2 separate regions of the Homo sapiens genome follow, and region 2 is linked to region 1. The links come from fine-mapping of genetic effects on gene expression. Tissue or cell type: monocytes after R848. Region 1 holds a variant in brackets; the other region holds the start of a gene. All regions are shown on one strand. Distances are from middle to middle.

Region 1 (2,687 bases):
GGTACATGTGCAGGTTATGCAGGTTTGTTACATAGGTAAACATGTGCCACGGTGGTTTGCTGCACAGATCAACCCGTCACCTAGGTATTAAGCCCAGCATCCATTAGCTATTTTCTGATGCTCTCCCTCTCGTCTAATTTACTGTACATTTAAAAACAGCTAGAAGAGAATTTGAATGTTTCCATTATAAAGAAAAGACAAATATTTAACGTGTTGGATATCCCAAGTACATTAATTTGATCTTTAAAAATTATATGAATGCACTACTTTATCACATGTACCCCAAAACTATGTATATCTACCACGCCTCAATAAAATTTTTAAAAGTTACCATGGGGGGAAAAAGAGTGCTAAAGATTCTCATCTCCCACAGTTTTAAGTCAAGAATAATAGATAGATAATGCCAATAGATAATGCCTAAAATTGAAAAAATCAAGACCATCAATATAAGCATATACTTAAACATGCATAAATATACGTTTTCCTGAATTTCTTTTGTGCACTTCTATATTAAATTTTTAAAATTTACAACCACTTAAATTGCTTTAAAGCTCCTTTCATGAGATCTAGAAACTAATGAGACACACTTAAAAATATTAATTTTCTCTAAAAAGAAAAAATAGAAATCAGTCTCATTCTTCAAAGGGGCTTTCTAGTTTATTAAGATCAGAGTGCAAGGATGGTGAATGGCCATGCACTTGTTTCACATTTTATGTATTTCAAGAAAAAGTAGATTTGAAAGGCCAGGGTAAGTGGCTCATATCTATAATCCCAGCACTTTTCAAGGCCACGCCAGTGGCTGGGGGGAAATGGCTCGCACCCAGGAGTTTGATACCAGGCTGAGTAACACATGGTGACCCCATCTCTACAAAAATTTTTAAAATTAGCCAGGCATGGTAGTGCATGCTTGTGTTTCAGCTACTTAGGAAGCTGAGTTGGGAGGACTGCTTAAGCCTGGGAGATCAAGGCTGCAGTGAGCTGTGACCATGCCACCAGGTCTGTGTGACAGAGTGAGACCCTGTCTCAGCCAAAAAAAAAAAAAAAAAAAAA[G/AG]AATAAACAGATTCAAAAGAGGGAAAAATAAAAATGTCCTTAATGAAAATACTCTCTTTTCTATCAGGTCTGCAACATGAAAGTCACAGGCATCACAATCCTCTTTTGGCCCCTCTCCATGATATTATTATCAGACAAAATCCAGTCTTCTAAAAGAGTAAGTTTTTACAATCAAAATAGTAAAAATATTTTCAAAGGTACATTTTCTGTATATTTAGTAAAATATAAAAGGGCAATAAGAAAGCAAAGAAAATCTGACCTACTAAAATTAAGAGTTTATTTAGCTCTGTATATCCAAATTCCAATTTGACAAAAGCAGCCTTCATTTATAAAAACTGAGTTCTTTAAAAGTTGATTAAAGGGAGAGATCTGAAAATTTTCACTATAAAATCAGAAATTAGTTTTAAGAGTAAAATCTTGTTTAAAATGTAGGAAACTTTTTTTTAAAAAGCACATATTTATGAGAGAAACTGCTATTGAATTATTATTGGTGAAAAAATCTAACTGCAAAAACAGTAATAAACCAGAACTATTCTTAGTTCTATTTATTCTTAGTTTACTGTTCAGTAAAAACAAGAACTATTTCTTTCTTTCCATCTATATCCACATAAAGAATTTCAGATTGTGTGGCTCTTTAAATTCAATACCTGGCTCCATTTCTGATAAAAGATAAATATTTCCTTTTAAAACACCAAACTTTGAGCTGTTAAACCCAGAGAGTTTAAGAGAGTTAAACCAGAGAGTTTATTCAGACTGATTGATTGATTGCTTGCTTTTGAGACGGAATCTCGCTCTGTCGCCCAGGCTGGAGTGTAATGGCATGATCTCAGCTCACTGCAACCTCCGCCTCCTGGGTTGAAGCGATTATCCTGCCTCAGCCTCCCAAGTAGCTGGGATTACAGGTGCTTGCCACCATGCCCGGCTGACTTTTTTTTTTTTTTGTATTTTCAGTAGAGACAGGGTTTCACTGTGTTGGACAGGCTGGTCTTGAACTCCTGACCTCAGGTAACCCGCCTGCCTCAGCCTCCCAAAGTGCTGGGATTACAGGCGTGAGCCACCATGCCCAGCCCATTTATTAATTATTGAACAGCCCTAGGTATAATGTTGTTAGCTCTGCTGATTTTAAAAACACATATAGTTTAAAATAATTTCCTCACTATAAAGCAATTGTGCACACTGGAATATTAAATGTTAACAGAATTATTATTTACCATACATTTCCACATATATAAATGGGAATATTCCAGTAGCATTACTTTCTGTAATGATCATGTAATAACAGTTGGAAAATACCCGTATGACAAATTGGAATCTCTTTGTTCAATTGTATGTATCAGAATATCCTTAATTTTTAGTATTTCATCCCAATAAAGAAAAAGATTTGCTCTACTGTAACACCAAAATATTAGATAGTAGGTTTTTTTCCCAAAATAACGTCCTTCTAATGTCTAAGTGCTTAAATATGAAATTTGGTGAAATTCTATTAATTTTTTTTCTGATTAATGCCTTTCTTTTTTTTGTTTTTCTAGGAAGTCCAATGTAATTTTACTGAAAAAAATTATACCTTGATTCCAGCAGATATCAAGAAAGATGTTACTATACTTGATCTCAGTTATAACCAAATTACTCTTAATGGT
Region 2 (2,687 bases), 43 kb after region 1:
CGTAATCAGTCCTTGGACTGCTTCTATCCTTTCTACAGTCATGCATCTTTATAACTCCAACTATGTGTACGGCTCACTAATCAATGTCTACAGTTCTGCCCTTTCAACTGGGCACCAATTTTGAGTTTTCAATTGTTTATCTGAAATTTCCATTCAGATATCTCATTTGAATATGTTCACATCAATCTTCCTGACCCCACTAGCTCCCTGATTCTAATTCCTTGCCATTTTGAACTCTATGTACAAAGCAAAAGAATTTCAAATGGAAAAAGGAATTTCATGAAATGACTCTTTGAAAAGGAAGACGGTGTATGATCAAAATGGTTTTTCCAGAAGAAAACGAGTACAATAAACATCTCTTTCCAGTGGAAAAGATATTACTCTAGGTTTCCTGCTAACTTTGAGAAAATGTACAACATAAAAAATTTCACCCAATTTTCTTTGCCACCGTTTTACTGTGGTGAAAAAAAGCTTACCATTATATTATTACCAGTGGGATTAAGAGGCGGGCATTAGCAACAAATATACCACTAACTTCGGGGTTATTCAATCAAAGAGTCACACAATTTCCAATTATTCACACAGAGAGGCAGCCTGGCCTTTGGATCCAGAATGATTAGCGATACAAACTAGTGCTGACAAAGTTAGCGGCTGCATAATCTTGCCACCTTAATTAACCCCTCAGGATTTCATCTTCTGTAAAACAGAAGGGTGACATCTACCTTGCAGGGCTGTTGTGAAGACGATAAGTATTACATTTAAAACATCTGCTTCTAATTATTATTACTATCGTTATCCTCCCTAAGCCAACCATTCTCACACAGGTGAATAAGTGGAAAGTTGCTAACTGCCCGCACTGTGATCAACAGACAGAAATAAGTCCCTTCCACTGTAAGAGGCAGAAATGTATTGCTTTGACTAAAATCCTTCAGCCCATCGCGGTCCTTCCCTCTGCTCTGTGCTTGGCGGGTCTCCTGCGGGGGGTCGGGGAGGGGTCGGGCTGTTGGAGGAGGTCTGTTCGCAACCTTCGCTCGACTAGAATTGGTACATGCCTGGCCTGGCTACAGGCCCGACGGTAACAGTTAGCTAAGACCGAGTTTGAATTTGTTTTGTTTGGAGCGGATCAGCATCTCCAAGGCAAGAGAACAGACGTGGGAGGGAGGGAGGAAGAGATGGGACCCGGGGATTCTCACCTCCGCCGGCGCGGAAGGAGGGCAGTTGCCCGGCTCGCGGGTGCCTTAACTTCTTTCTGAGGCCCACGCTCAGTTTTCCTCGGCTCTCAGGCCTACCCACTAACTGCCGTGCGCCGCGGCGTATCCCGGCAACGGGGGCGGGATAGCGGAGGCTCCTCATCCTGAGTGACCAATCCTCCGCCTCAGCCCTTGGTTACACACGGAGCTCTCGCGAGAATTGAGGATATGTTTGTTTCTTCACCACGCTTCAGTGCTTTTTGGAAAAAGTGGAAAACAGCGGGGCGGCTGGAAGACAAACATTTTATGTGAACGTTTGGTTTTCTTGATAATCAGAGCAACCTCCGTGTGCCTTACTTGAAGTAACTCTAGCGAGTTTTGCTATGTCCCTAGGTAACCTCACGTCGGCTAACGTTGTTAACAGGTTACATTTGAAGTTAAGTGGTAGGCAGCATTGTGCAATTTTCTAAACTCCTAATTTGTGGTAGTTTTCCTTCCTATTAGGACGGCATAGCGTACACAACGCATCATGAAGTATGGATGCGATTCTGGCACCAACTGTTCCGTTCCTGCTTTCACCAGAAGCTTTGCGTCTTTAAGCTTCCTTTCATTAGAATTTGGATCCAAGTTTGTGGGGAAGACTGTGAATTCAATGGAAAGTGTCCTTTTTTTTTTTTTTTTTAATTTAAGAACTACTTCACCTTAAATCCCACTTCTCTAATAAAATAACTTTTACTGTATGTTTCCTTCCAATCTTCATTGATAACAGCTTAAATGTGATTGCATATGTATTGGGATTTTAACATTATTTTACACATTATTTCCAACTTGCCTGCCTTCGAGGAGTTAAAAATCAATACAACACAAAATGAGATAATGTTATGTGGCTGAATTCTCCCTTAGTTTGTGAAACATTTTCATGTAATTATCTCATTTGAGCTCACCCTATTTGCAGTGGCCATTTGTCATCCTTTTGGCAGAGTTTCTCCCTTACCCTGCCCCCCAACACCCTTACAGGAACTGAAAGTGACAGATACTGGCTTTCCTAGTCTTCCTTATTACTGGGACATGAGTATTATTGCTTGCTAGACTCTCCAATCTAATTTGGTGGACTCAACTCAAACTTGAATGACAACCAGAAGCAGGACTTCAGAGAGTCTGTTGAAGTAAGGGTGACAGCCGCAGTAACTACATCGTTTCCGAGACTGCAATGTTCTATCACCAGCAACCAGTGTCCAGCATCAGTGTGTTGTTGCAAGCTGCAGTGTTAGGTACTCAGAGGCTTTATTGGGAGGAGAACCTCTAGCTTGTTTCTTCAGCTTCTGGGAGAGTCTGTGAGCTGCTTAATGTCCTTTAATAAATTCATTTTCAGCTTTTATATCATTTATAGATGATTTCTGTTCCTTGCACTTAAGGACCCTGACAGATATTAACAGTTGAAATTGGCAGGACAGATACTATTATCCAAGTTTTAAAGAGATTAAATAATTTGCTTAA

Direction of the effects. Positions count from the first base shown, and alleles are read on the strand shown. Sizes are in standard deviations (SD) of each study's normalised expression.
For the expression in monocytes after R848 of the gene that starts at base 1,298 in region 2, allele G in region 1 goes with a higher level than allele AG (moderate effect, 0.59 SD a copy in Quach 2016).

What was found. PIP is the estimated chance that this variant, and not a neighbour inherited with it, causes the effect.
Region 2: IFT74 starts here. The variant in region 1 is fine-mapped to the expression of IFT74 in monocytes after R848 (Quach 2016, PIP 0.95).

What each region holds. Positions count from the first base shown.
Region 1 is chr9:26,998,134-27,000,820 of GRCh38, reverse strand. All of the region lies in intron 8 of IFT74 (intraflagellar transport 74), which reads right to left. It overlaps LRRC19 (leucine rich repeat containing 19), which reads left to right. Exons shown (of 5, transcript NM_022901.3): 2 at 1,118-1,207; 3 at 2,580-2,687. The coding sequence starts at 1,127. Among named protein-coding and RNA genes, the nearest start is that of LRRC19, 6.2 kb to the left of the region's middle. The variant G/AG (reference allele first, on the strand shown) is at 1,051.
Region 2 is chr9:26,955,023-26,957,709 of GRCh38, reverse strand. It overlaps IFT74 (intraflagellar transport 74), which reads right to left and starts at 1,298. Exons shown (of 20, transcript NM_025103.4): 1 at 1,194-1,298. It overlaps IFT74-AS1 (IFT74 antisense RNA 1), which reads left to right and starts at 1,403. Exons shown (of 2, transcript NR_121605.1): 1 at 1,403-1,583; 2 at 1,695-1,930. RefSeq lists a silencer at 1-19 and enhancers at 616-1,350, 1,351-2,086.